Homo sapiens: one gene and its partners. The protein of the gene in region 1 purifies or fractionates together with the protein of each later gene. This does not show direct contact. Each region holds a gene or a part of one and is shown in the gene's direction. Other genes may lie near its edges.

Region 1 (9,879 bases):
CACCACCCCACTCTTCAATCCCGTTAGTTATGAAGTCCTGCCACAATGAGTCCCATCTGCAAAAGTTCTCTGAAATGTTTGTCCCTTTCCATGCTGCCTACTTTCACTCAGCTCCAGGCTGCCCCCAACTCTCACCAGGTCTCATAAAGTGTAGACCCACATGCTCCCCACCCCCAACACAGCAGCCAGGATGATCTTTTTATCAGTCCCCTTTTAAAAACCCTTCAGTGTTCCCTATTGTTCTTGAAGAAAAGCTCAAAATATTTAACGTGACCATGCAGCCCCCGACCCTGCCACTAAGCACATGTGAGCCATGTTGACTTCCTTTGATGCCTCAAGCCCCTTCTGGGCAATGCTTCTGCACATGCTGTCGCTTCCTGGTTGGAATTTCTTCCCTCTCCCCATGAACTCCCTTCACATGGCTCTCTCCAACCTCAGACTGCCTTATGTCTTATAGCACCCTACTGGTTTGCTTTCTAGTGCTTTCTTATACTTGCTGTTATATAGTTATTTGTGCGATTATTTGTTTAAAGTCTGTCTCCCCCACTAGGCTGTAAACTCCACAAGGGCATGTCTGATTTGTTTTTCACTCTATTCCAGTAACCAGCACAGACTCCACGCTTGGCAGACACTCCATAGTGGTTTGCTTGTTGGTGAAGTCTATAGGTGCTCCACATTTAATGTGTCCCAAATCGAACTATCTTTTTTCTCTCTCTCTCTTCTAGTCTGTTTTCTTTCTTCTCTGAGTCAGTGAATGACACCAGCAACCACCCAATCCAGAAAAGTTAGAGTCATCTTCATTTGTTTCTTTCCCTTAAGCCTGATATTCACAGCAAATCCCAACAGTTTGATCTCAGAAATTTCTCCTGCTTTCTTTCTCTGCTCCCTCTCATCTTCACTGCACTGCCATAGTTCAGTCCTCCTAATCTCTTGCTGTATTATAGCCACTGGCCCCTGAATCAGCCTTCCTACTTCTGTTTTCTACTGTCTTCCAGTTCATACGTCACTCTGCTCCTACAGCATCCAAACCACAATTTGATTTTGCTGTTTCTGCACTTAAATACCTGTAGATGCTCTCCATTTCCTGCCTTAAAAAGACAGACCAACATTGGTTAGAAAGTAATCCAAGGCCCTTTTAATCTTCCTCCAACCTGCCTTTCCAATTTGCCCCTCACTCCCAGTACCTCCAATTTCACTTCAACCACACAGAGCTCTTGGCCAGTTCCTATATAGGCTGTGCCTCTGTGCCTGTGTACGTCATCAGCCTTTATACATTCTAGTCCCTCAGCCACTGCTCATCCTTCTTGATCCACCTCCTCTACTGGTTTTTTGGGGGAGCCTTCCTCTCCCTAGGAAGAGTTAGATATTCCTTCCTTGGTGTATGTAATGAATGTCCATGGTATAACTGGCCCTACTTAAGCATTCTGACACTGGATGACAGTTTGTTTCTCTTTCCGTCTGCCCCTTTCATTAGATGCTTACTTCTGGAGAGTGAAGCCTTGATTTTTTTTTATTTTTTGACTCCCTACCTACATCCCATCCCACCATCGGCCGTGTACACCTCCATGGCCCAAACCTAGTGCTGACACTAACCACGAACTTTGCTTTCTAGCAGATCGAAAAAGCTTCTGCACAATCCACAGCACAGGCTATTTGAAAAGCTGGCCACCCACAAAGATGGGGCTGGATGAAGACAACGAACCAGACAATGAGGGGTGTAACCTCAGCTGCCTCGTCGCAATTGGACGACTGCATTCTCATGTAGTTCCACAACCAGTGAACGGGGAAATCAGGGTGAAATCTATGGAATATGTTTCTCGGCACGCGATAGATGGAAAGTTTGTTTTTGTAGACCAGAGGTAAGAGTCTACATACTACCCTTGAGCAATGATGGTAGAGGATTTTCAACCCTGATCTAAAAAGCAGAGAAGACTGGGCCATCAGCTGGCTTTTCTAAGAATGAAGAAAGAAAGAAAAAGCTGGGTGCAGTGGCTCACACCTCAAATCCCAGCACTTTTTGAGGCCAAGGTGGGTGGATCACTTGAGCCCAGGAGTTTGAGACTAGCCTGGGCAACGTGGCAAAACCCTGTCTCAACTAAAAATACAAAAATTAGCCAGGCATGGTGACACATACCTGTAGTCCCATCTACTCTGGAGGCTGAAGCAGGAGGATCAGCTGAGCCTCGGGAGGTCAAGGCTGCAGTGAGCTGTGATTGCACCACTGCACTTCCGCCTGGGCAACAGAGTGAGACCCTGTTTCAAAAAAAAAGAGACAAATGATGAGAGTCTCTGTTAAAAAATGAGATTCAATAGGATATCATCATAAATACAGAGATTTTTCTGTCATTCTTTGGCATATAGAGACAATTAAGTGGGGTGCCTTGATGTCCATGGCTAAAAGAAAAACAGTAGGGATAGCATGCTGTCTGAATCTATGGAATGTTCCAGAACCATTATTGTGATTGAAATTCTTTTGAATCTAGGACTTGGAAGCAATTATTTAGTCCTGAGCTGTCCAATAAAATACTCGTTGGCCATGGTAGCCTCCCATGTGGCTAACGGCACAGACATAGAACATTTCCATCATCACAGAAAGTCTTGTTGGACAGCGTTGATCTAATCCAACCTCCTTATTTTATGGATGAAGAACAGAGGCCAGCCTGGGGACTGGTCTCCTGTAGGATTCACAATTAATTGGTAATAGACCTGGACCAAGGACCCAGGTGTCCCAAATTTACTGCTGCCTACTGCTTTCCCTCAGAATATGCACAGGCTAATAATTTTTCTGGCTACTAGAGACAGCCACAACATGCTGGAAAAAGAGACAGCCTCAGCTGTCTTGTGGCCTCAGCTGCTGCAGCTTCTGGCATTTGGTTGTCCTGATAAAAAGGAGGCAGCAAAAACTAGAAGCCTTGCACTGAGGTTTAGATTTATACCACATTTTAATCTAATTAATGTGGTTCCTTTTTTAAAGACAGATCTCAGTCTGTCACCCAGGCTAGATCTAGTGCAGTGGCGAGATCTTGGCTTACTGTAGCCTTGACCTCCCGGGCTCAAGCAGTCCTCCCACCTCAGCCTCCCAGGTAGCTGTGACCATAGGCATGTGCCACCATACCCAGCTCATTGTTCTGTGTTTTTGGTAAAGACAGGGTTTCACCATGTTGCCCAAGCTAATCTTGAATTCCTGAGCTCAGACAATCTGCCCAACTCGGCCTCCCAAAGTGCTGGGATGACAGGCATGAACCACCATGCCCGACTGGTTGCAATTTTTAAAGCCCCCTCAGATTTGATTTCTTGTGATAATAGTCCCTTTACAAAGGCTTTGCTCTGTTTCCCTCTATTTTTATAGCCTTGATTAAATTCAGATGCCTGAAAAAAAGAGAGAAAGATCCACACAGTGAGCCCTCTGAAAATCCATCCAGCTCTTTTGCCTGCAGCTTTGACCTTGCTCTCATAGGCTGTAGCAGGGTTTATCCATTGCAAAGTTGCAATTAATCATCTGAATGGCTTTTTCTTCTTTAAATATTCCTTTATTCCCTTTTAGGGCAACAGCTATTTTGGCATATTTACCACAAGAACTTCTAGGCACATCGTGTTATGAATATTTTCACCAAGATGACATAGGACATCTTGCAGAATGTCATAGGCAAGGTAAGCTAGGATGTATGAAAGATCTTAAGTTGAAAGTGTCCCCTTGCTTCTAGACTAGTCAACATGACCTTCCAGGGAAATCTGTCCACTGAGGATGTAGAGTCAGCCAGCCTAGGACTCTTCAGGTCAGAACATCTGTGTGAAGAGGAAGCTGATACCTGCAGGCACTGTTTATCCCCCTTGTAGTTGCCCTGTGCTGACTGCATGGCAGTTTCTGAAAGACATCTCTTGTTCAGAGGGTTTTCCCAGACCCTGTAAAGATTTAGTATGGCCCAGACTGATCTGATTCTCTTTTCCATTCAAGCCTGCACTACCTCCTGTGTTTTCTGTCTTGACTAATGCTGTGGCTTCATGTGCAGGCTCCTGAGAGAGACCAACATTGACCCCTTCTTTCACTGTGTCTCCACCAGATCCTGTTCATTCACCTCAGACATGCATTTCCAAAAGTCTACTTTTTACCACCTCTGCCATCACCCTGGTTCAGGCCCTCGTGCCTACTTAGAGACCTGTGATAGACTTCTCAGGGTTTCTCTGATCCCTCTCACCCCCAGTTCATCTTCCATAGTTATCCTATTTATCCCCAGATAGATTGAGCCTGGTAACATCAGCCTGCTTAAAAACCTCCTGCTTTAGACTCAAGCCCAAATGCTTTTGACAGGCAATCAAATGTGAGACCTTCCACCTTCTGGCCCCAGCCCACCTCCTCAGTTTCAGTCCCCATCCCTGCCTGCAGAGGCCTGTGCTCCAGGCACACTGACCTCACTGGCCTCTCCCCAACCAGACCCTGCTGCTCCTCAGGCACTGCTGGGTTCTTCCCTCCCTCCTTCTCTTGGCAAACTCGTGTTCATCCCTCAAGGCTCTGATCTCTTCTCCCTGTATAGCCTTCCCTCACTACTCTTCTTGAGGGCAGGAGTCATAGCCTGTCTCCTCTTGTATCTCCAGTGCCTGGCACATGAGAAGGGCTCATTACATGTTACATGAAAGAATGAGGTTGAATAGGTGAGTAGCCTCTGTTGATTTGGATGTTCTTAGAAATGAGATAAGTTCTATATTGCCCTTGGGCTTTGTGATTGAGATAAAGCATGACATTTTGGACAGTGCCTTCTCATTTGCTGGTGGTCATGTTAGAGCTGATTCCAGTTAGATGTATAACATGCAGTCAGTAATTCCCTAGAGCCTCAATTTTACAGACTATGGAAAATCATGACAGCTTCACAAATGAATTGAAAGGCTCTGAGTTAGACCCTCAGAAACAACCTATTTCCTGAGTGTTGACCACTGCAGTTTCCTTGGCTTACTAAAGAGCGATGTCGTTGGAGCTCAAGTACCTTTAATATTTTGTATTGGATGTCCTGTTTAATACTTTGGTCTGAGAAAACAACAATGTCCATGTTTTCTTTACATTTTCAGTTTTACAGACGAGAGAAAAAATTACAACTAATTGCTATAAATTTAAAATCAAAGATGGTTCTTTTATCACACTACGGAGTCGATGGTTCAGTTTCATGAACCCTTGGACCAAGGAAGTAGAATATATTGTCTCAACTAACACTGTTGTTTTGTAAGTACTTTTCCTATATCTGAAGCTCCCCTTGCTTCAAACAGATGCCTAGGGTTCCTCATCTGGGAAATGGGGTGCAGGCAACATCCAGTATCACATCCTTTAATGCCATCTTGCTAATACCTGTGAAGCCTCAGGACTGGCAGAAGCTAGAAAGGATTGTTAACAAAGGGACAAGCTTCAGGACTTGTACCATGCAGGCCCTGGCTTATGAAACTGCTCCAGGAAATAGCAACATTTCCTTCCAGATAAAGCAGCTAACCTTTGAATTCCACAGGCCCTGCACCCTAGGCATCCACTTGTGCTGCTGTGGAGGAAGGGGTTGGCAATCTATGAAAGGCTCATTCAGGCACTAGCTCACACTGGCCTTGGCTGAGGATGGGGAGGTCTCCATACCTGTCAGGCAGGGGGCCCAAGCACTGGCAGCTGGAATGCCATCTCAAAAGGCTGCTACCTGCTAGATGAGCAGAGGGAGGTGAAGGAGCCTCTCTTTGGCCAGGCCTGCTCCCCACTTTTCCTTCCCCATAGTGTCCAAAACCCCACCTATGGTAAGAGCTGTGTGAGGGGCCGGGGCTAGGTGCACTGCAGGCTGGCAGGAGGAGGTGCTGTAATGATGGCAGTAGGTTACTGCAGCCACCACCTCTGCTGAACTGTGTCCCACACATATTAGGAAGGCCTAGGCAGGCAGTGGGGCCAAAGGCCAGGATGCTATCCATTATATTATCAAACAGTGAGACCTGTTTACCCACTCAGACAGACACTTCATTTTCTGGCCTGTCCAGGTCCAGAGTGGACACCGGACACCTTGGCCAAGTTGAATGGTGCACAGTTCTGAGCAGGCCTGACTCACGTTTCCTTATTGCTGGGATGTTCACAGAGCCAACGTCCTGGAAGGCGGGGACCCAACCTTCCCACAGCTCACAGCATCCCCCCACAGCATGGACAGCATGCTGCCCTCTGGAGAAGGTAACTATGTGCTGCTGGGGCCCTGGGGCTTGCCCGTGGGAAGGTGCTTGTGGTCAAATATCCTCCCCTAAAGTATTCAGGGTCCCCTCCATTCATATTCTGTGGAACAAGGGAGGCCTCGAGGGGATGATGTGCGGATTTCCCCATGAATGCAGAGGACACTGTCATGTCACTTTCTCTGTTGAGCCGGAATACTAGGAGCTCACTGCTGCACTTCCCAAAGCTGCTGGCCCCTGGAAGCCCTTGAGCTCGCAAACTCCCTACTCCCCTTGTGCTTTCCTCCTGTGTTGGCTAGTGGCCATGATGTGAAGTGCTCTTTCGTGACTGTCACTAACTCCTGTGGTTGGCAGGCAGGTGTCTTTCGGCACCAGGGTGTGTACCATACCCACTGGGCTCCCTTCTCAGGCTCAGCCTTGGCCCTGCCCCTGCTGTCCACGCTGGACTCATCCTTCCTGGGACCATCCCCACATGCATGGCTGCAGCCCCCATCGATGACTCCCACATCCACATCTCCTGGCCCAGTCTCTCTCCCGAGCTCCAGATCTGTCTCTCCAAATGCCTCATAGACAGAACCACCTGGAGTCTCAGAGGCACCTGAAATTCAGAATATCCCAAGCTGATTTTCTGCACTCCCCTACCTGATTGGTTGTTTAAGCCAGAAACCTGGCTGTTGTCTCTCCCCCATTATATCTAAACACGGAGTCCTGAACCTTCTATCTCTTAAACTTCGTCACCACTATTGCTATTTCACCCTCCTCATCTGCTGCCTGGATTATTGCAAATCACTTCGCAACTCTAGTCCCCCTCTCCCCACCCCATCCTCCATTGTAGTTCATTCTCCCTGCCGTGGACTTTCTAATAACCCAGTTCTCATTTGTGCCTTTTCTGTGTATCGTCCTTTGGTACTCCTCATTCCCTTGTGGAAACTGTCCAAATTCGTTAGTACGGCATCCAAGAGGCCCCTCATGATCGGATTGGTACCTGCTGCCCCAGTTTCATCTATCATGCTCTCATCATCATTTATGATGAATTCCTTGGAGGAGTCTCCCAAGTTTTAACCTGCCTCAGTGCTCCTGCACGTGTTGGTTGCTGTGCCTGGAATGCTTTCTCCTCCTTACCTCTCTGCCAAGCTAATTCATATTCATCTCTCAAGACTCAGCTCGGGGTTAACTTGCTCCAGAAGCTGCACCTGGCCCCAGATGAGTTGGTTGCCTCGTGCTTGCCTGTCAAACTTACAACATTTTGCTTTAGCCATTGTTCATCTTGTTGGTTTTCCTGTTAAACTGTGAGCTCCTTGAGGGCAGGGACTTGTCTCTGTAACCCTGGCACATACAGTGGTCTTCAATAAACGTTTTTTTTCAGTGCATGAAGGGAAAGAATTAGATGCTGTATGAAGGGAAAAAACTGGCCTCAGATCCTAGAAGGAAACTTGAGCCTTTCCCTGCTGGAATGCCTTTTCCTGACAAGCTGTAGCCCTAAAGTCCCTCAAGGCACAACTCTGATGTTGAACTGCAAATGGATCATGGGATAAACTGGTTTTACTTTAATACATAATAGTATTTCTTCCTCAGTTTTCCCCTTTCCTACTCTCAGATTCCTTTGTTGTAGGTGGCCCAAAGAGGACCCACCCCACTGTTCCAGGGATTCCAGGGGGAACCCGGGCTGGGGCAGGAAAAATAGGCCGAATGATTGCTGAGGAAATCATGGAAATCCACAGGCAAGTAACACCTTCTAGTTCCTCTGTTAAACCAGTGGTTCTCAACCCAGGGAAATTTTTTCCCCCAGGCAATATTTTGCAATGTCAGGAGACATTTTTGGTCTTCACAACTGGGTGGGAGGTTGCTACTTAAACATCCTGTGGATAGAGACCAGGGATGCTGCTTGTTAAACATCCTACAGTAAACAGGACAGTTCCCTCCTCCCCACCCAACAAAGAATTATCCAATCCAAAATGTTAGTAGTGCCTAGATTAAGAAATCCTGCCTTAAATAAAGAAGCTAAACCAAAATAGCCCAGCGCTAAAGAGAATTCTTGAGAAGACTTAACTTTCTTATGGCTCAAGGAGCTTCTCAGTGCGGATAGATGTACCTTTACTTTACAGGAATGCAGGAGTAGAGCTGTGAACTATCAGAGTGATCTGGACCTTAACAAAACATTCACTTTTTTTCAATCAAAGAGCTGCCCAGGATTAGTACTAGAAACCAAGCAGATCAGCTAGTTATTACTAGCTGTCTTGGGAGAGACTTCCTTTCCATATGAAAGAGAAGGAGCTTAGAAGCAGTCCACCTGGGTCTGAGTCCTGGGCCTGTCTCTCTACCTGGCTATGCTGAGACTTACTTAACCTCTTGCTCTCTGTTGATTTAAACCATAAAAAGAAAGCACTATTTCCCAAGAATTGTGTTAGGATTGTGAGGGCACTCAGGAAAGTTCCAGGAACACAGCCTGACATATAGTGAGTGCTTAAAAATTAATTAAATCTGTCTTTAAGAGCAGTCGAGAGGGAAGCAGTTATCATAAGTCTGTCCAAATTTGGGGAATAGAGAAGGTGGTAACCAGATTCTTCAGAACGAAACTTAATGTAACATAAGAAAAGGAAGAAAACACTGCTGCCGCTGGATTCTCTCAGGAGAATTAGAGGCTGGCCTGTTTTCCAATTGGCCATAAAGGGGCTGTTATCCCCCTATAGGTAACACAGCTCTTTTCCAACCCCACAGGATTAGTGGGTGTGACTTCTGCATCAGGAAGGAGACATGAGGGTAGTGTGCAGTGTAATCAGGTTCAAACCCTATACTTTGCATTTGCATACCCTGTATTTTGCTTGAGACCATCCAAGAACAGTATCAAACAGTCCTTGACCTCAAGAATTTTAAAATCTTTTATAAGTCTATTTTCTTTATGATAACAGGAAAAAGGGAGGGTGCATGGGCCAAAGCAAGCAAAAGAGGAAAGATTTGAACTTGGCCTTAGCCAGGGTTTGCAATAAGAGTGGATGTTCCCTCTAGAAAAGCCAGGGCTATTCTTGAGTGGGCATGTGAGTGGCAAATTCAGGGTCAAGAAACAAGCTACCTAACTGGGCAGGCTTTGTGTAGGAAGGAGACACAGAGCTATGATAGGCGATTAAGAAACACAAGAAATGATACTGTGCAGTTTGGAAGAAACCTGTAAGACCCCATTTGTTGTAGGATGCTGAACAAGCATCCAAAGTCTTGTGTTACGCTTTGTGGAAGTTGCATTGGAATAGGGAGAGATGAAGGTGGGCATGTTTGACAACTCAGGAATGAGGCCTTATCCTACAGAGATGACACTGCCAAAAGAGAAATCAATCATCTAAGGTCTAGCGTTTGAAGATGAAATCAGGAATGATGAAACAGCAATTCCAAGATGAGAAACCTGGGAAAATAGTGGTTTCATAGACATAAGTAGAGAAAGGTGGGGGACACTCAGCAATTTTTCCGTAAGCAATTAGCAGCCGTTTGTGCATGCTGAGAATACATGATATGTAGTTGTAAACTGCCGTTAAGAAGCTTCTAATCCAGAAAGAAAACTTGTTCACTCATAAATCTAGAGAACTAGGCAGTACAAGAACCAAAAGACTTCTGGGTGGTGGAGGAGTGGTCTCTGGGTCACCCAAAAGCTACATTCATCCATGTAGGAGCTGAGAGTCCTGTGGTTACACAACTGCCATCACACTCTCCCTAAAC
Region 2 (9,860 bases), on another chromosome or scaffold:
TGGTTGCTGTGGGCTGGGATTTGAAGAAAGGCGTGGCTGGTTTGTTTTGGCTCAGGATGCAAACAAACAGTGCAATCAGTGATGCTTGCCACAGGGCGGCTGGGGGTGCTGGACAAGTGGGCATCTCTCTGTGGTCTCAGGGCCTCCCCCACCATATAGTCTCTGCACTGGCCAGCTTGGGCTTCCCCACAGCATGGCTGCCTCAAGGTAGTCAAACTTTATATGGCCGCTGAAGACCCAGGCAGAAGCTGCATGGCCTTTTCTAGCTCATTTTGGGAGTTCCGCAACTTCACTTCAGCTGAATTCTGTTGGTTGTATGCAAGTCACCAAACTGCACAGATTTGAGAGGAGGGTGCCATAGACCCCAGCTCTTGATGGAAAGAGTATCAAGCTCTCATTGTGGAAACACACATGGGATGAAAGACACTGTCACAACATGGCAAAACCCCATTCCTACAAAAAAAAAAAAATTAACTAGGAGTGGTGGTGCACACCTGTACTCACAGCTACCCAGGAGGCTGAGGTGAGAGGATCACTTGAGCCCTGGAGGACGAGGCTGCAGTGAGCCATGATCATGCCATTGCACTCCAACCTGGGTGACAGAGCAAGACCCTGTCTCAAAAAGAAAAAAGAAAGAGATTGTTGTAGCCGTCTTTGGAAAACAGAATCTGTCCCAGCTGCCATGCATGGCTGGAAGAGGTGGCCAATTCCTGATATTCAAAAGTGTGGAAGGATTTGCCAAGCTTAAGTCACCTTAGCTCCAACAGATGCAGGAAAGCAAACATCCATTCTTGTTGGCTTCAAGAGTGGGCAACAGAGGCTTTCAGACAGTAGGAATTTCCTTAAATGTGGGAAGGAGCTGCAGATGCTAGGTAATCCTTCCCGCAAAATATGTACTATAGCCCGCTCCTTTGGTTTTTTTTGTTGTGTTTTGTTTTTTAGACAAGGTCTCACTCTTTCACCCAGGCTGGAGTGTAGTAGCACGATCTTGGCTCATTGCAGCCTTGATCTCCCCAGTTCAAGCGATCCTCCCACCTCAGCCTCCTGAGTAGCTGGGACTACGAGCACAAACCACCACCACCCCCGGTTAATATGTATTTTTTGTAGATACAGGGTTTTGCCATGTTGCCCAGGCTGGTCCCAAATTCCTGGGCTCAAGCGATCCACCTGCCTCAGCCTCCCAAAGTGCTGGGATTGTAGGTATGAGCCACCACAGCTGGCTTTGAATGTTCAATATCAATAGGCCCTTTGCAGAAGTTCTTATCGAAACTTTCCCCGCACAACCGTCTCTCATTGTACAATCAAAAAATGCATTCACACTGCCACCCAATACAAAAAATTTCAATAGTTCCATTTTCCAGATCTGAGACTGGAATCAGGGAAGAACCATTCCCCTCCAAATATGTCATTCTCCCCATATTCCACAAGCTGTGAGCTAGTTGTAAAGTTAATCGTCACACACTGTGTGAAAAATAATGGGAAAAAAGGTCAAGAAAAGATAAGTCAGCCAGGCACTGTGGCTTCCGCCTGTAATCCCAACATTTTGGGAGGCTGAGGCTGGTGGATCACCTGAGGTTAGGGGTTCGAAACCAGCCTGGCCAACATGGTGAAACCCTGTCTCTACTAAAAACACAAAATTAGCCGGGCATGGTGGCGCATGCCTGTAATCCCAGCTACTTGGGAGGCTGAGGCAGGAGAATTGCTTGAACCTGGGAGGCGGAGGTTGCAGTGAGCCAAGATCACGCCATTGCATTCCAGCCTGGGCAACAAGAGTGAAACTCTGTCTCAAAAACAATGAAAAGGTAAGTCTGGCCAACCGTGGTGGCCCACACCTATAATCCCAGCACTTTGGGAGGCTGAGGTAGGAGGATCGCTTGAGCCCAGAGTTTCAGAAAAGATAAGCCTTGTTAGTTAAAATATGTGAGGATATACACCTGCGGCCGCATGGATGGAATTAGAACTTTTTTTTTTTTTTTTTTTTTTTTTGATACTGAGTCTCGCTCTGTCACCCAGGCTGGGGTGCAATGGCATGATCTCAGCTCACTGCAACCTCCACCTCCTAGGTTCAAGCAATTCTCCTGCCTCAGCCTCCCGAGTAGCTGGGATTACAGGCACCTGCCACAACCCCTGGCTAATTTTTTTATTTTAAGTAGAGAGGGGGTTTCACCATTTTGGCCAGGCTGGTCTCAAACTCCTGACCTCGGGTGATCCACCCACCTCGGCCTCCCAAAGTGCTGGGATTGCAGGCATGGGCCACCATGACTGGCCATTTTTATATTTTTTTGTAGAGACGGGGTTTCGCTATGTTGCCCAGGCTGGTCTCAAACTCCCGGGCTCAAGCAGTCCTCCCGCCTCAGGCTCCTAAATTGCTGGGATTACAGACGTGAGTCCCTGCGGCTGACCTGGACCTCAGCTTTTACCCTAAGTGAGACAGAAGTCATGGGAGGACCCTGGGGCAGAAGAGTGACATGAGTTGATTCACATGTAAAAGGAATCCTTCAGGCTGTTTTGTGAGAATAAATTACAGGGGACAAAGGCAGATGATGTTACAAGACTAGTTTCTGCAAGTCTGCAAGGGTCCACGGCTGCTGTTTTGGTGTTTCTGACTTTTCTCCTTCATACACATGCCATAGAGTTCTCCTCCCTCACCCAGAACCTCAGATGGCTAGGTTCTTCTTTTTTTTTTTTTTTTTTTTGAGACAGAATTTCACTCTTGTTGCCCAGGCAACATCGTGCAGTGGCACGATCTCAGCTCAGTGCAACCTCCACCTCCCAGATTCAAGCGATTCTCCTGCCTTAGCCTCCTGAGTAGCTGAGATTACAGGCATGTGCCACCACGCCCAGCTAATTTTGTATTTTTAGTAGAGATGCGGTTTCACCATGTTGGTCAGGCTGGTCTCGAACTCCTGACCTCAGGTGATCCACCCACCTCGGCCTCCTAAAGTGCTGGGATTACAGGCATGAGCCACAGCGCCCAGCCTCAGCTGGCTGGGTTCTTGAGGGAGGTGGAAGTGGGCGATGGCTGCTGAGAGGGCATGTACCAGGGTCCAGCCCAAACAGAAGGTGCACAGGCTGGGGACAGAAGAGCTAGGGTATGGGTGTCGGTGCTCACAGTGTGTGAGCTTGACAGCACCTGGGACTGTCTTGGAGTGCCGCCGCATTCCCCATGAGTGAGTTTGTATTGTATATCCTGGGATGCTCCAGTCTGGATGGAATCTGCACGTGAGTTTGTGTGCCTTGCAAACAAACCTTCCCTGAGCACCTGCACTGTGTCTGGTCTTGTGCTGGGCGGGGTGCCCAGGGGAGGAGCCCTTAGCTCACCACAGTGATCAAGACATCCCTGGCCCTGCCCTCACAGGCTCACAGTCCACTGAGGGAGACAGACCTATCCCCAGCCAGGGACCCCCAGAGTGTGCCGGGCTCAGGTGGGGGAGCCCAGAGGGGGAACCTGACCCAGCCAGGGAAGGCAGAGGGGACTTCCTGGAGGAGGGGATGGTACAGTTAATCCTAAAAGGTCTTTCCCAATGTAACAGTTGCTCTGTAGGATGGATGCAGTGGCTCATGCCTGTAATCCCAGCACTTTGGAAGGCAGGAGGATCACTTGAGCCCAAGAGTTGGAGACCAGCCTGGGCAACATAGTAATACCCTGTTTCTATTACCAAAAAAATACAAAAATTAGCTGGACATGGTAACACAAGCCTATAGTCCCAGCTACTTGGGAGGCTGAAGTGGAAGGATTGCTTGAGCCCAGGCGGTTGAGGTTTGAATGAGCTATGATTGCGCCCACTGCATTCCCGGCTGGGCAACAGAGCGAGACCCTGTCAAAAACAAAACAAACAAACAAAAAAAACGTTGGTCTCCTGTATGACCAATGGATAAAGTAACCTTGACCAGTCTAATAACTCCCAGGCTGACCTGTAATCCAAGCCTTCTCTGTATGTCTGAGCAGGCAAAGCCCAGCTCCAGGGCTACCTCAACCCCCAGGCTGATCAGAAGCTTGGGTAACCTCTCCCAGTGTGGCCAGCGACCCCCCACCCTCCCACGTTCTGACCACTGTCCTGGGCAACTAGTGACATCTAGTGGGGGATTTTGTCCCAGTCTGACCTGGCCTGTAGGGGCCTTGGGCAGTCGGACCTGTGACCCACGCTTCCTAGCAGTGGCTGGACTCCTCCCCCTTCCCGCAGGTGCCCTGGCCTCTTCCCCTGCCCTCCTCACCTGCTCTGGCCAGTCTGACTCCTCCCTTCCCCACAAGGTTGGGAGGGAATGAAGGAGAGAGCGGGAAGGAGGAAGGGAGGGTGGCATTCCTGGGATTCCCTGGATAGGGGGAAGAGTGGGAGGGCCTTCCATGGGTGAGCAAGCAGAGAGGGCACCCCGTACCCCACCCCCAGCCCCATCATCGAAGCGGCCTAGGAGGACCTGGATTTGAAGACCATTGAAAATAAGAGATTAAACCGGTTGATTCCAGGCTACTGGTCAGACGAGGAAAGCAGCCCAGAGCACTGACCACAGGGGAAAACATCTCCGGGCATACTGGGAGCAGCTGCTGGGGGCCACTGGTCAGGCTGCGGGGGTCACTGGTTGGACTGGGAGAGGCCAGTGCAGGCCACTCGGACGGCACGCTTGGGGCCATTAGTTACACTGGGAGAGGCCATCGCAGGCCACAGGTTGCAGTGGGGTCCTCTGGTTAAAATCGACGATGCCAGCCCAGGCTGCTGGTCACAGTGGGGACGAGTCCCCAAGGCCCCTGGTCAGAATAACGAGGAGAAGGTCCGCGATTGCCTGGTGAGATCCCAGCTCGGGTCACTGGCTACGCTGGTCGATCAGGCCCCCCGCTGCAGGCGCTGGTCAGTAAGCCCGGACAGCTCTAGGCTTGGGGGCGGACGAGCCCCGAGCCTGGCCCCGTGCACTGGGAGGTCCGCTCCGGGCAGTGGGAGGTCCTGGCCCCGCGCCCGGGCATCGGGGGACGAGGGGGGCCTGGAGGGCGGGGCGGGGCGGGGCTGCCGGGGGCGGGGCCTCTGGCTCCCAGCCCCGCAGCGGCCGAGCTGCAGCCCGGGCTCAGTCTCCGCCGCCGCCGTGAACATGGAGCCCCCGGACGCACCGGCCCAGGCGCGCGGGGCCCCGCGGCTGCTGTTGCTCGCAGTCCTGCTGGCGGCGCACCCAGGTATGGCTCGGGCTGAGGGCAAGGTGGGACTGGGGAGAGGCCCCTGGGGACCCCGGGAAAGCGAGGAGAAAGGGCTTTACCCTGACCCCAGGAAGCAAAATGTGGGGACCCCAAGGAGGAGGGATATGGGAGTGTTGGAAGGTACGCCTTCCAGTGAGAGAGATCTGGGGACAGCCAGGCAGGAGAGCTGGGGATACCCAGGCGGTGGATCAGAGACAACCAGAGAAGTCAGCCCCCTTCCCACTCAGCACCCTGGAATCTGGGTCCCACCTGCCTCCTCCCTCAGACCCTGGAATCTGGGCCCCCAGCCCCTCTTTCCTCAGACCCAGGAGTCCAGGCCTCCAGTGGCTAGAATAGCTTCCCCCAGGGCACAGAGGATCAAAACCCCAGGGCTCTCTCCCTCAAAGGTCCTCAAGTTTTGAGAGGTCCAGGGACCCCTTAGAGAAGCGAGGACCATGTGTCCCCACACCAGCGATCCACATGTATTTAGGAGTTTCCAGAGTCCAGTATAAAGAACCCGCCTCCCTCAGGAAAGGGCTGGAGCACCAGCCCCGGGCAGTGACAGTGGAACAAAGTGTTTCCAAGTGACAGGCCCCCTTCCTGGGGCCTCAGCTACATTTACACACCTGCATGAGGATAGAAGGAGAGGAGGCCGGGGGCTGGGGGGTGGGGGTGGGGGTGCTGGGGACAGAGGGACAGAGAGATGAGAGAGATTGGGGAAGAGAGAGGAACTCTCTGCCTCCACTTGTCTGCAGATCAGACCCAGCCTTAGGCACCAGCCTGGACCCCGTCACCCCTCCCTGGGGACAGGCTGGGGCCAGAGGTGAGCGCTTGGGAATCCAGGCCCCTGGCACACTCATGGTCAACAGTGGGTCCCCAGGGGTAGGGCTGGGCCAGATTGAGCAGAGAAGGGAAGGGAGTTTCTAAGAAGCACTGAGAGCTGATGCCAGGATGCCAGCCCAGAGGGTGAGGGAGGGTGGTGGTTTTTCTACAATAACTACTCCACCAGGCCCCAGCCTCCTCTTCCCTCTGATCCCAGGAGTCCAGGTGCCCAGCTTCCCAAGATCCTGGGCCTCAACCTTATCCTTTTGCAAGATGACTCGACTTATCCCGTTTGCTGTTGTATCAAACTGAGGGGGGCCAAGAGGCGGCTGGGGGCTCTGGCTCCAGGCCGGGCAGGTCTCAGCCAGCCTGTCCCTCCCACATTCCTGAAACCTGCCCAGCCCTGTCCCCCCTCACCGCCCCCACACATCCATCCCGCCTAAGCTCCGGGCCCAGCCGCAGCCCACACCCCAGCCCCTCACTCATGGGAGAGCGGAAGAGACCCAGGGACTGAGTGGTGCAGGTGCAGAGAGAGGCAGAGACAGGGACAGAGATGGAGACCCAAGAGGAGAGACACACGCAAAGGTGGAGACCAGGATGGAGAGAAACATTTATCCATCATCACAGAGGTGGCCCTGCCCAGGGTGCTGGAGGCAAATGGCTGAGCCAGGCCTGGCCCTGCCCTGGGGGGTGGCGTGTGCTCTGTTGGGATAAGCAAAGGCTGGTGCAGTATTACCCCAGGAGTGTTCAGCGGAGGCCACAGGGCCCTGTGCAGCCCAGAGGAGGAGCCCTGAGCTCTGCAAGTGCAGGGAGAGATGGATTTGAGACCCAGAGATGCAGGGAGAAGGGATGGAGGGCGAAAGGATCTCAGGGAGGAGGGGCTGGGGCCTAGACTCCTGGGTCTGAGGGAGGAGGGGCTGGGGCCTGGACTCCTGGGTCTGAGGGAGGAGGGGCTGGGGCCTAGACTCCTGGGTCTGAGGGAGGAGGGGCTGGGGCCTAGACTCCTGAGTCTGAGGGAGGAGGGGACAGGGGCCCAGATTCCTGGGTCTGAGGGAGGAGGGGCTGGCACCTGGACTCCTGGGTCTGAGGGAGGAGGGGCTGGGACCTGGACGCTTGTGTCCTGGGGGAGAGGGGACCCTGTCTGGAGGGCTCTTCCTGTTGGTGTGGTGGATGATAGCTCAGTTGCTCTCTTGCAGATGCCCAGGCGGAGGTGCGCTTGTCTGTACCCCCGCTGGTGGAGGTGATGCGAGGAAAGTCTGTCATTCTGGACTGCACCCCTACGGGAACCCACGACCATTATATGCTGGAATGGTTCCTTGTGAGTGCTTGGGGCTGGGGGGCCTGGAGTCAGGGCACAGCAGGGCAGCAAAGGTTCATTCTCTCATCAGTGCCTAAGGCCTGTAGAGATCCACCAAGCCACACTCCTTGTTACAGATGGGGTCACTGAGTCCCACTGAGGGGAAGGGATCTGCAAGGTGCCCCGTGTCTAGGCACAGCCAAGTCTAGAATGACATTGACCTGCTCTGGACTGCGGGCTCTTGAGAGAGAGAACAGAGACAGACATCAAGAAAGCAGAAGCCAGGCACGGTGGCTCACGCCTGTAATCCCAGCACTTTGGGAGGCCGAGGCGGGTGGATCACGAGGTCAAGAGATCAAGACTGTCCTGACCAACATGGTGAAACCCCGTCTCTACTAAAAATACAAAAATTAGCTGGGCGTGATGGCATGTGCCTGTAATCCCAGCTACTCAGGAGGCTGAGGCAGGAGAATCGCTTGAACCTGGGAGGTAGAGGTTGCAGTGAGCCGAGATCGAGCCAATGCTCTCCAGCCAGGCGACAGAGCAAGACTCTATCTCAAAAAAAAAGAGGAAAGAAAATGAGAGACAATCGGGAGAGGGAGAGACCAAGAGGAGAAGGGATGGGACCGGAATGAGATGGAGAAAAGGAGACAGGAAAAATCAAGAACTGATAGGGAATGGGGGCAGGAGAAGGTGGGGAGGGACAGAGGGACCAGGGAGACCCATAACAAGAGGAAAAGAGGCAGAGCCAGGAGCTGCAGAGAGAAAGGACCCAGAGAGAGAGAGACTGAGGAGCGCTGGGACACCCGGAGCTGAGAGCCTGCCCCGCGCCCACAGACCGACCGCTCGGGAGCTCGCCCCCGCCTAGCCTCGGCTGAGATGCAGGGCTCTGAGCTCCAGGTCACAATGCACGACACCCGGGGCCGCAGTCCCCCATACCAGCTGGACTCCCAGGGGCGCCTGGTGCTGGCTGAGGCCCAGGTGGGCGACGAGCGAGACTACGTGTGCGTGGTGAGGGCAGGGGCGGCAGGCACTGCTGAGGCCACTGCGCGGCTCAACGTGTTTGGTAAGTGTCCTCGGGCATCCCCCGAAGGGAGGCAGGCAGGGAGGGGCGCAGGGCAGGGGCTCCTGACGTGAACGTCTTTTTCACAGCAAAGCCAGAGGCCACTGAGGTCTCCCCCAACAAAGGGACACTGTCTGTGATGGAGGACTCTGCCCAGGAGGTACCTCTCGGGTGGACCTTGGCCCCAGGGTCCTGGAGGAGGAGGGGACAGGGCCCTGGACTCCTGGGTCTGAGGGAGGAGGGGCTGGGGACCCCTGGGTAATAAAGGAGGAGGGGTAAGGCCAGGCGAGGTGGCTCATGCCTGTAATCCCAGCATTTTGGGAGGCAGAGGCAGGCGGATCACCTGAGGTCAGGAGTTCCAGACCAGCCTGGCCAACATAATGAAACCCCGTCTCTACTAAAGATACAAAAATTAGCTGGGTGTGTTGGTGTGCAACTGTAATCCCAGCTGCTCGGGAGGCTGAGACAGGAGAATCACTCGAACCCAGAAGGCAGAGGCTACAGTGAGCTAAGATCACACCACTGCACTCCAGCCTGGGCCACAGAGCAATACTCCGTCTCAAAAAAAAAAAAAAAAAGAAGAAGAAAAGAAAAAAGAAAGGAAGGGCAGAGGGGGAAGACTCCTGTGTCCTAGGAAGGAGAGAGCTGGGGGACCCAGAATCCTTGGTCCCTGGAGGATGGTGCTGGAGGCCTGGACTCTTTAGTCTGAGTCGGGGACTAGGAATTTGGACTCCTGGGTCCTGGGAGAGTCGGGAGTTAGGAGCCCGGCTCATGAGTCTGAGTGGGGAGAACTCCTGAGAGAGGAGCCCCGACTTCAGAGTCCCAGCTCCAAGCCCAGGGCCATGCCCGTGTCTGCCTCAGATCGCCACCTGCAACAGCCGGAACGGGAACCCGGCCCCCAAGATCACGTGGTATCGCAACGGGCAGCGCCTGGAGGTGCCCGTAGAGATGAACCCAGGTGAGCAGCGCAGGAGCGCGGCGGGACGTGGGCTGGGGTGGGTGGCGGGGCTATGGCCTGGCTGACTGCCACCTCCCCCGATCTCTCCCAGAGGGCTACATGACCAGCCGCACGGTCCGGGAGGCCTCGGGCCTGCTCTCCCTCACCAGCACCCTCTACCTGCGGCTCCGCAAGGATGACCGAGACGCCAGCTTCCACTGCGCCGCCCACTACAGCCTGCCCGAGGGCCGCCACGGCCGCCTGGACAGCCCCACCTTCCACCTCACCCTGCACTGTGAGTCTGTGCTGGCCTTTGACCTCTGACCTCAGGCTCCACACCTCATGAGGCCTGACCCTCCACCCGGGGGCTTCACACTCCCCTCTGACCCTCTGCCTCCCTACTTCATGCTAAAAAAAAATGTGCTAGTGCTGGCCACTGACCTCTGACCTCAATTGGTCGCACAAGCCCCATCCTGACCTCTGACCTCCGACCTCCACTTAGCACCCTGGACCCCATGAAGTTTATGACTAAATGGTGCTTTCCACCTTCTCACACTGAATTGGGTCCCCCCATGACATC
Region 3 (10,487 bases), about 53 Mb from region 1:
GCAGCCGCCGCCAGGGGCACTCATACAGGAAGCGCATGGCGACGTCAAACGTGGCTCCTGCACAGGAACCGAGAGGCCCAGATCAGCTCTGCATGCCTGGGGAACTCCACCAGGCCTTGGAGCTAGCTCTGCAGCACAAGCCTCTGGCCCCAATACCAGGTCCTGCTCATCTTCGCCATACCTGTGTTCCCTGCTCCAACCCCCACAGATTTTTCCCTTGTCTGATCTCTAAGGGGGAGACCAGGCTCATTTGTGTCCCTTCTATGCCCCCTTTATAATCCCATCTTCTCCTCTACCTCTCTGTGCTATAATTAACAGGCAGGTGTCTCCTCCTGACCCTGGACCTCCCAGGATGCACCTGGTCTCAGCTCTGCAACCTCGTGCCGGCACCAGGCCTGGCCGGAGAGGGCGCTGTGCCTTCTTCGGTCCTTCCTCTTTGGTGTTCTTCGTGTCAGCGTCTCTAGCTTGTCCCCAGTGGCCTAAGCCTGTGGGACTGGCCACAGAGCGGGCGCCCATTCCTACCAGGCGCTGCGCAGCATGCCAGCCTACCTCCCCAGTTCTCCATGCTGAAGAGCTTGCTGAAGTTGTGGGCAACATAGGGGGCGATCTTTTTGAGATCGTGGGTGCGCACACGAGTGGCCAGCAGTGACTGGTGGGCGTCCCTGAAGGTCGTGTCCATCAGCAGCAGCCCCGGGTGGTTCCGCACAGCTCGAGCAAAGCCCTCAGGCCCCTCTCGCAGCAGGATGTCTCTGAAACCAGCCGGGGGCGGGCCTAGGGTAGACAGGGGCATTGGTGCCCATCCTGCAGGTGGCAACCTCCTGTCTCCCCCATGAGTTGACAGAATGGATCTCACCTACCTATGGGCACTGCAGGGACAACGGGGTCCGTGGGGCTGGGGCTGGCCTTGACGGGAATCGGGGTGGTTGGACCGTTTACCATGACATGGCCTGGGGAGAAAGCGGGCAGTGGGTCAGGGTGGGCTGGGCAGAGGCTGAGTCGAGGGCAGCAGTGAGAGTGGCTGGGCTCAGGGACAGGGACACATCCCTCCAGGATCCCCGGGCTTCCAGCTGGCCCCTGTCCTCTCCAAAGCCAGGGCCTCCTGGGTACAGGCAGTGGGGACGTCTTGAGGACCACGTGGATGGAAAGGTGGGGTCTCTCAGATCAGAAGCAAGGAGAGCAGTGAATGGCAGGGTGCAGGACAAGAGGACGCAGGGCCAGAATGAGGGCAGGGGTGAGGGGCAGGGGGCACTAAGGAGTTCTTTGGTCATGGGGAGTGGCAAGGAGGTAGGAGCAAGAGATTGGAGAGCGGAGGGGAGGGGAGGGCAGGGCAGGGCAGTCTCGGGCCAGACCGAGGTAGTGCAACAGCTTTTGGGCCCGGTTCTGTGCAGGCCGCAGCTGGAACAGCTCTGGGTTCTCGTCGATGAACTGGGTGTCCACAGTGCCTGCCAGGAACTGCTGGTTGTTGAGCACATTCTGCAGGAAGGCGATGTTGGTCTGCAGGACAGAGGCGGGTGGGAGGGGGTCACCATGCAGCACAGACAGGGAAGGCAGAGGAGAAAAGGCTGAAAGAGAAAAGGCTGAAGATGCTGCCCTGGGCCAGCACAGCTTCTGGGCCTCCCTGCAGAGGGGCACTTCCCCGTCCCTCAGCCCTCTCCTCACTCCAGCAGAGCCCCCTAAGCTGTCACGGGCTGGGCCTGCTCCCTCCATACTTGTTTACACCAAAGCATGTGCTGAAGGCCACCCTTCCTGCCTCCCCGCAGCCTAGAACAGGGCTCAGCCTTTTTCTCCAGCAGCGTGGCCCACAGCAGTCACCCTTGCCCCTCGTCCACGCTTCTCGAAAGAGGGCCTTGACCGCAACAGACCACACTCTGGCACTCTAAGTCACTCCTCCCAGCTGAGTCCAGCGGGCATGCTCCCGCCTTGCTGCTCGTTCCCTGGGCTTCCAAGCCATCTTGCTCTCCTGTCCTCTTCCTCCCCAGCTCCTCACACACCACATGCTCCCCAGGAGGCCCCGTCCCGGGGCTGTGGCGCCAGTGACAGGCTCTGCCTCCAGGGCAAGACCCAGAGGTGCAACTGCCTCCCGGGCCTTTCCTTGTTCACCCCTCGCATAAGTTCAGCAAGTCCACGGCCAGCTTCCTGCCTATGCACCCAGTCCTCCTGTGCCCAGTGGGTGCCCCACTGTCCCCCCAGTTACCAAAACCTGCATCCCATCACCCTCATCACCCACTCCTCCCATGCCACTGGTCAAGCCAGAGGATTCGACCACGGCCATTTTGGGACCTTGTGACCTCTTCTCCATCTCCAGGCCACACCCTCCACCGCCTTCCTCATTGTGGCCACCTCCAGCCACATCAAACTTGCCTTGCGCTCCACACCTTTGCACCTGCCTGGGAAGCTCTCCCTGAACTTCTCAAGGGCCTTCGCCCTGTCCTCACACCCTCGGCAGAGCTGACACTCACCTTTCCAGCAGTCCCCTGAGGAACCCGCTGTGGGCAAGCACACCCATCGGCTTCATCCTCTGCTTGTCTGCCTGGGAACCCTTGGGGGCAGGGTGCTGCCTGAGGCATGTGTCAGTGCACTTTGTGCACAGGGGCCCTCGGTTCCACTCATTAAATGCCTGGGTGACAACATGAGGCTGGGCCAGGGTGAGTATGACTTAAACGGGGACATGCGAGCCAGCACTGTGACAGGTGCTCCAAGACCTGTGAAAGCATGGCCTGTGGCTGTGTAGCGACAGCCCTGGCTTCCACCGCGAAGAAAACACCTCCACGCGTCACTTATTCATGATCCCTGTCGGCACCTTCAACAGGGACTCAAGGCCACCCAGACTCCTCTGAGCTCTCCGTCTCTTAGGCTCCTATTACCTGGAGGCCTGGACAGGAAGGGTGCCTCCCCCACCAGCCTGTCAGGTGCTCACCACAGAGTGGGACCCCGCCAGCAGTGCTGTGCCTGTCTGCCCCTGAGCCTCGCCCCTGCCTCTCCTGAAGAGATGCTGACATTTCAGCTGGGCCAAGGCATGGCACTGGAGAAGGGAGGCAGCTAATGAAACCATCCAAAGAGCCCCGAGCGCGCAGAGTGAGAAGGACCCTTGGAGGCCTTCGCCCTGTCCTCACACCCTCGGCAGAGCTGATGCTCACCTTTCCAGCAGGCCGCTGAGGAACCTGCACGGGCAGGGCTGAGCGCAGACCCACACTGTTGCTGGGACCCTTGTGTTCACAGACACACGCTGAAGGTCATAACCGTTCTGCATCACCGAGTCATGTGGAGGGTCCCCACTGAGTCTCCCCTTTGTGACTGTCGGGTTGCCCATCCTCTCCTCCATACTGTAAGCTCTATGGGGGCAGGAACCAGGCCCATCTGGTTCCTGATGAACCCGGCTCCCAGCACTGGGTGGCCATGGTGGATGCTGGTAAACATCTATATTTAGAGTGAATGAAAACTTTTTTTTTGAGACAAAGTGTGTCGCCCAGGCTGGAATTCAGTGGCACAATCTCAGCTCACTGCAACCTGTGGCTCCCTGGTTAATGCGATTCTCGTGCCTCATCCCAACAGACATGCGGTACCACGCCCGGCTAATTTTTGTATTTTTAATAGAGATGGGGTTTCGCCATGTTTGCCAGGCTGGTCTGGAACTCCTGGCCTCAAGTGATCCACCCGCCTCGGCCTCCCAAACTGCTGGGATTACAGGCATGAACCACTGCACCCGGTGGAAAACATTTTTGATGGGGAGAAGAGGAACAAAGACATAGCTGGTGCCACTGCACATCAGAGTTGACCTGCACCAGGACTGAATCCCCCTCATTTTACAAACGCCACAGCTGAGGCCCAGTGAGTGGTGACAGAATGGCTTCTGGCTGCCTGTAAGCCCCTCACAAGCTGCAGCTGTCCTCCCCTCTCGCCCCTAGGAAATGCTTATGTATGTACCATCCAACTCTCCTGGCCTACAGGAGGAACTTGTTTTCAGTGGTCAGGTAACGTGCCCAGGACTACACTGCTGTGCTGACAGGATCAGAATTCCAATCTTGGGTTTCCCCGAGTTTCCTGCCACCTGGCCCATGGGGATCAGGGCTGGAGGGAGAACGAGGATGGCTGAGGTTTAGGTGGCTTAAGGACCAGGAGACACGGGGAGGTGGTGACTTCCTGTTTCCCAACTGGGCAGACCACTGGTGGTGGCGGGCACAGCTGGAAGGAAACCAGGCTCGCCGAGCCACCGAAGCCCCAGCTTTCTCAACCAGGAAGCAAAGAACCTCCCCCACCTCACGCCGGGAGCCCTTTCTCTGAGAGGAGCTGGTTCCGAGCCGCTCTTCCAGGGAAATGGCCCGGCGGCGACAGAGCGGGAGGGAGGGGCCGCAGGCGCTGCGAGGACGCACAGCTTCCCAATGCGTGCCCCCGGCGGTTGGGAAGCCGCGCCGCGCAGACCAATCCGGCCCGAGGCGGAGGCCGGTTGGCTCCGGAACGCCTGGCCCGCGGGGCGGGCGGGGCAGCTGGGGAGGGAGGGAGAGGCGAGAGGCAGCTGGGGACAGGGCGGGGCGGCGGGGGCGGGGCGCCTGCCCGGAGGCCAAGCCCTCTCGGCCCCACCCCGCAGCAGCCCTGCCAGGGGCGCCGCCCCAGCCCCCCCCACGGCCGAACCCCGTGCCGGTTGGGGACCCTCCACGTGACTCGGTGATGCAGAACGGTTATGACCTTCAGCGTGTGTCTGTGAACGCAAGGGTCCCAGCAACAGTGCGGGTTTGCGCTCGGCCCTGCCCGTGGGTGCAGGGACGTGTGGGTGTGTGGGCATGTGTGGGTGTGTTGGGGAGGGTGCCCAGCGACATGTGACAAAGACGCCCGTCTCCGGGAGATGGTGAAGGGGCCCGCGAGCAGGCGCTTTGTCTGGCTGTCTGCAGAGTGAGGTTCGCGCCGCGGCGGCGGGCGCCCGTGCGGTGCAGGATGCCGGGGCGCCAGGATGGCCGGGGGCGCGCGCGCCTGTGCCAGGGTGAGTGCGCTGCGGCAGCGCCGGGGGACAGCGCGGAGGGCCCGCGCCGGCCCGGGCCTCGGGCGTGACTGGGCGCCACCCGTGGGCGCTGCAGCGGCCGCGTGTCCCCGTGACCTCAGGAGCCGGCCCGGGCCCGGGTGGATCCCCGCGCGCCCCTCCCCGTCCGCCCTCCACGTGCGTGTCCGCGGCGCGCGCGCCCGCCGGCGCGCACCCGCTCGCCTGTCGCCGCCGCCACCGCTAACCGCGCCGGGAAAAGGTGCCGGGAACCGAGCGAGCCGGGGCCGCGGGCCCGAGCGCCATGGGCCCGAGGGTGGGCGGCGGGCGGCCGGTCATCCCCGGGCCTCGTCCCCGCGGGAGAGCGGCCAGGAGTCGGCGGGGGCCGGCCGGGCTCGCAGGGAGGCCGGCCCGCGCCCCCTGAGCGACGGACACCAGGTGAGGGGGCCGCCGGGCGCAGCGCGGGGGCCGGCCAGGGAGGGGCCACGGACTCCACGGGAGGTTCGGGGGGCGCCTTCTCTGGCGGGGGAGGGTATGGCGGGGAGTGGGGAGGCGGCTGGCGATTCCTGGGGACGCCTGGGAAAGGAAGTTCCGGGACCCTCCCTGCTCTCGGTCCTCCTCCGCTTCCTGCCTCATGCCTCACCTTGTCCCCAGCGCCTGGACTCCCCCTTAACTGCTTGGGAAATGTGACCTTTGCTCTGGGGGGCCTGGCCCTGCAGGCCCCAACCTTCCCTCATCTCTGGCGGCCCTCTTGGGCCTCTGACCCAGCCCCTCCCCGGGCCAGGCTCACAGAAGCTGGCTTCTGGGACTGTCCTGGGCCCAAGTGGGCACCTGCGCCAGCCCCACCTGTGCCTGGGCTGTGGCCCCTTCCTACAGGGCGCTCACCATGGCCCCGCCGCTCCTGCTGCTGCTGCTGGCCAGTGGAGCGGCCGCCTGCCCGCTGCCCTGCGTCTGCCAGAACCTGTCCGAGTCGCTCAGCACCCTCTGTGCCCACCGAGGCCTGCTGTTTGTGCCGCCCAACGTGGACCGGCGCACAGTGGAGCTGCGGCTGGCTGACAACTTCATCCAGGCCCTGGGGCCCCCTGACTTCCGCAACATGACGGGACTGGTGGACCTGACACTGTCTCGCAATGCCATCACCCGCATTGGGGCCCGCGCCTTTGGGGACCTCGAGAGCCTGCGTTCCCTCCACCTTGACGGCAACAGGCTGGTGGAGCTGGGCACCGGGAGCCTCCGGGGCCCCGTCAATCTGCAGCACCTCATCCTCAGCGGCAACCAGCTGGGCCGCATCGCGCCGGGAGCCTTCGACGACTTCCTAGAGAGCCTGGAGGACCTGGACCTGTCCTACAACAACCTCCGGCAGGTGCCCTGGGCCGGCATCGGCGCCATGCCTGCCCTGCACACCCTCAACCTGGACCATAACCTTATTGACGCACTGCCCCCAGGCGCCTTCGCCCAGCTCGGTCAGCTCTCCCGCCTGGACCTCACCTCCAACCGCCTGGCCACGCTGGCTCCGGACCCGCTTTTCTCTCGTGGGCGTGATGCAGAGGCCTCTCCCGCCCCCCTGGTGCTGAGCTTTAGCGGGAACCCCCTGCACTGCAACTGTGAGCTGCTGTGGCTGCGGCGGCTGGCGCGGCCGGACGACCTGGAAACGTGCGCCTCCCCGCCCGGCCTGGCCGGCCGCTACTTCTGGGCAGTGCCCGAGGGCGAGTTCTCCTGTGAGCCGCCCCTCATTGCCCGCCACACGCAGCGCCTCTGGGTGCTGGAAGGCCAGCGGGCCACGCTGCGGTGCCGGGCCCTGGGTGACCCCGCGCCTACCATGCACTGGGTCGGTCCTGACGACCGGTTGGTTGGCAACTCCTCCCGAGCCCGGGCTTTCCCCAACGGGACCTTAGAGATTGGGGTGACCGGCGCTGGGGACGCTGGGGGCTACACCTGCATCGCCACCAACCCTGCTGGTGAGGCCACAGCCCGAGTAGAACTGCGGGTGCTGGCCTTGCCCCATGGTGGGAACAGCAGTGCCGAGGGGGGCCGCCCCGGGCCCTCGGACATCGCCGCCTCCGCTCGCACTGCTGCCGAGGGTGAGGGGACGCTGGAGTCTGAGCCAGCCGTGCAGGTGACGGAGGTGACCGCCACCTCAGGGCTGGTGAGCTGGGGTCCCGGGCGGCCAGCCGACCCAGTGTGGATGTTCCAAATCCAGTACAACAGCAGCGAAGATGAGACCCTCATCTACCGGTGAGGATGCGTGCCCCACACCCGGCTGCACTCCCGGCGCCCTTCCTCCGCCCTCTGCTCCCCACAAGGCTTTGCTTCCACCCCTCCTCTCTCTGGGGCTGACACCCCCTCCCCGACCATGGCTGCTGGACTCTTGGAGGAGCAGTGGCCTGGCCTGGCCTGGCTGCCTGAGGGGGCTGGAGCTCAAGGGGCGGCAGAAGGACCCCACCCCGAGATGTCCCAGGTGTCACTGAGCTGTGCAGGCCTCCCCGGCAGCAGGTGGCGGTTGGGTCTGTCTGAAGCACATGGCCCGCGCCCGCGTGTTATTTCTGCCTCTGCTGGTGCCATCCCCCCACCCCATTCCCCTCGCTTGCCTGCGTCCTGTGCCAGTGCACACACCCATCTCCTGGCCACACTCTCCAGCCTGTTCACCTTCCTGAGTGAACCCAAGAGCCCGAGTGGCCCCAGGGGGAGGGGTGTTTGGAGCTGGGAGCACGGGAGTGGGGAGGTGAGGATGGGGCTAGACCCCAGCCCCGGGCTCTGACCACCTGCCCTTGCCTGCAGGATTGTCCCAGCCTCCAGCCACCACTTCCTGCTGAAGCACCTCGTCCCCGGCGCTGACTATGACCTCTGCCTGCTGGCCTTGTCACCGGCCGCTGGGCCCTCTGACCTCACGGCCACCAGGCTGCTGGGCTGTGCCCATTTCTCCACGCTGCCGGCCTCGCCCCTGTGCCACGCCCTGCAGGCCCACGTGCTGGGCGGGACCCTGACCGTGGCCGTGGGGGGTGTGCTGGTGGCTGCCTTACTGGTCTTCACTGTGGCCTTGCTGGTTCGGGGCCGGGGGGCCGGAAATGGCCGCCTCCCCCTCAAGCTCAGCCACGTCCAGTCCCAGACCAATGGAGGCCCCAGCCCCACACCCAAGGCCCACCCGCCGCGGAGCCCCCCGCCCCGGCCGCAGCGCAGCTGCTCTCTGGACCTGGGAGATGCCGGGTGCTACGGTTATGCCAGGCGCCTGGGAGGAGCTTGGGCCCGACGGAGCCACTCTGTGCATGGGGGGCTGCTCGGGGCAGGGTGCCGGGGGGTAGGAGGCAGCGCCGAGCGGCTGGAAGAGAGTGTGGTGTGATGGACGGGCAGCTTCCTGTGTGCTCCAAGGGATGAGCCTCGTGGGGCAGAGGGCCCGGGGCCGCCGCCTGGCCTGGGAGTCCCTCCCTGGTTTTTATTCTCAGTACCTCAGGCTCCCCTGTGTACTTGGAGGGGCAGGGAGCCCTTTCCTCGGTTCTGGCCTCCAGACCAGGGTAAGGGCAGGCCCCTCCAACAGGTGCTCACAGCCACCGAGGCAGGGGCTGCAGCCACCCACTGGGAGTCTTGTTTTTATTTATAATAAAATTGTTGGGGACACCTCAGTGCTAGTCTCTGGTGTTGTCTGGCTAGGTCCCCCGAGACGGGAGGACAGGACACGGGCCGCTGGTGGCACACGGACAAGGGTGGGGCTACCAGGGCCGGTGGGGGCAGTCACAGCAGCCTGGGGCCTCCTGGCTTCCTGTCCACAGGGGCGGCCCAGGGCTGCGGCCAAGGGCTGTGCCTGGTGTCTTCTGACCTGCAAGAGCATGGGCTTGGGCAGGCGGCCTACCCTCGCCTGTAAGTGCAAAGAACGCCCCTTCCTGCCAGGTGGCGACAGGACGCCGTATCCAGTGTAAAGCCTGGGGAGCACGTGTGAGCGCCTTCCCCATGGCACTTCAGGGTCTGCGGGGCGGACACAGGACTGGACTAAGCAACAGGAGGAGGTGGGGGACGGTACAGCCCTCTGGGAGAACGGACCTGGGCTGAGCGTACAGTGAAAAGTCCTCATGGCTCCAGGTGCTGACAGCTGTGTCTGCCACCTCCCAGGGCATCTTGTGGACTGGTAAAACGCCATCCCAAAGGGACTGGAAGGGCAGGGAACCCCACTGCTCTGCCATCAGCCCGTGATCCTCTGGAAGGTTCCTGTCAGAACTGTGGGTCCGAGCAGGACCGCAGCTGCCAGCTCAGATGTGCTCTGGGCCTTCCTGGGAAGGCGGCCTTCGCCCTCCCTCGCTGCAGGGAGGCAGCCGGATGGGCACGAGCCCTGCTTTCTCTGCTAGGACCCCTGGCCAGGCCCGGGCAGCCTCCGACCTGGCCCAGCCCCTGCAGCCTCCTGAACTATCTGCTTCTAGGCACTGGCTGGGGGGCATGGGCAGACGTGGCCCTCAGCCCTGCAGAGGGTCAAGCTCCCCCAGGTGCTGTATGAAAACTCAGAAGGCGGCCCTGGCACCCCAGGCCACGGCAAACACGCTGCACAGACTCCCTGGTGTTTTCTGTGTGAGGGCCAAGGCGCTGCCACCGGGCAGCCGAGGTGAGGCAGGTGCTCTAAGGCATACGTGTGTTCACGTGTGCATGGACCTGGCTCACACGCGTGTGCCTGCCCTCCCAGCCCCAGAACATGCAGCTAGAGGTGGGCTTCGAGAGCCTGGTTTAGATGAATGGGAGCAAGGTCCTCGACAGAGAAGGGTGTGGGGAGCGAACGCCATGGAGGAGTGGGCGGGGGCGCGGGACAGGGTGGGTGGGCACAGACGGCAAAGGGACAGGAGGGCCAGGGCTGCCACGCTGGGCGCTAGCATGAGGCTCAGGAGGCGGCTAGAGCCAGCGGCCTGGTCTTGGTGCACATTTGGGGAGGACTTGGCACCCCCAGACACCAGAGACACTTATCCTGCTGCTGGCCCCGTGGTCACGGTCTCTAGTGCCCCTTTCTCCACCTGGGGGGCGGGGGACGGTCTAAAGAGGAAGATCTTTCCGGGCCCTCCAGGGTGCAGAAGCCCACCTCTAGCTGCACCCCTAGCAGGCGCAAGGTTCTAGGGCCCAGGGACCAGCTTGGCACGTGGGGAGCTGCTGAGGGTGAGGAGGGAGCAGAGGAACCGGGCACAACCCCAGGAGCCAGCCAGGACCACAGAGCAACGGGCAGGGGCAGGCGAGGGGGATGGCCTGGGTCACCCCTGTGCATGGCCACGCATCCCCTCAACACCGAAGCAGCCGCAGGACATCCCCGCCAGGACACCAGGAGCCGCAGCAAGGTGCAGGGGGAGCGCGTGATGTCGACAGCTGATGTCGCGACACACCTCTGCCTATGTGCACGACAGGGACCCCCAACAGGGAGGCTGAGAGGCTCCCCACGGAAGAGTAACACCCCCTGGCCTCTAGGAAGTGCGCTGTTCCCTCTTAAGGTGGGAGACAGGCTGGCCACACACACAGGCATAGGCCCAGAAGCCTCCAGGGGCTCTTGCGACCAAGC

The links.
Region 2: the proteins of BMAL1 (region 1) and BCAM purify together in Homo sapiens (affinity purification with mass spectrometry; 2 studies listed by BioGRID and IntAct, with this or other methods). This does not show direct contact.
Region 3: the proteins of BMAL1 (region 1) and LRFN4 purify together in Homo sapiens (affinity purification with mass spectrometry; 2 studies listed by BioGRID and IntAct, with this or other methods). This does not show direct contact.

Annotation. Positions count from the first base shown.
Region 1 is NC_000011.10:13,370,551-13,380,429, forward strand, and holds part of BMAL1 (basic helix-loop-helix ARNT-like protein 1), read left to right. Parts: intron 1-1,612; coding exon 1,613-1,859; intron 1,860-3,544; coding exon 3,545-3,651; intron 3,652-5,061; coding exon 5,062-5,212; intron 5,213-5,994; coding exon of another isoform or gene 5,995-6,089; coding exon 6,090-6,178; intron 6,179-7,771; coding exon of another isoform or gene 7,772-7,786; coding exon 7,787-7,895; intron 7,896-9,879. UniProt on the Homo sapiens protein: Transcriptional activator which forms a core component of the circadian clock.
Region 2 is NC_000019.10:44,804,046-44,813,905, forward strand, and holds the start of BCAM (basal cell adhesion molecule isoform 1 precursor), read left to right. Parts: upstream 1-5,057; 5' UTR 5,058-5,079; coding exon 5,080-5,161; intron 5,162-7,179; coding exon 7,180-7,301; intron 7,302-8,117; coding exon 8,118-8,346; intron 8,347-8,432; coding exon 8,433-8,503; intron 8,504-9,204; coding exon 9,205-9,301; intron 9,302-9,392; coding exon 9,393-9,575; intron 9,576-9,860. UniProt on the Homo sapiens protein: Transmembrane glycoprotein that functions as both a receptor and an adhesion molecule playing a crucial role in cell adhesion, motility, migration and invasion.
Region 3 is NC_000011.10:66,851,890-66,862,376, forward strand, and holds LRFN4 (leucine-rich repeat and fibronectin type-III domain-containing protein 4 precursor), read left to right. Parts: upstream 1-5,174; 5' UTR 5,175-5,855; coding exon 5,856-7,204; intron 7,205-7,747; coding exon 7,748-8,306; 3' UTR 8,307-8,586; downstream 8,587-10,487. Other genes in the region: PC (pyruvate carboxylase, mitochondrial precursor), read right to left, coding at 1-57, 550-771, 858-947, 1,350-1,494. UniProt on the Homo sapiens protein: Promotes neurite outgrowth in hippocampal neurons. May play a role in redistributing DLG4 to the cell periphery.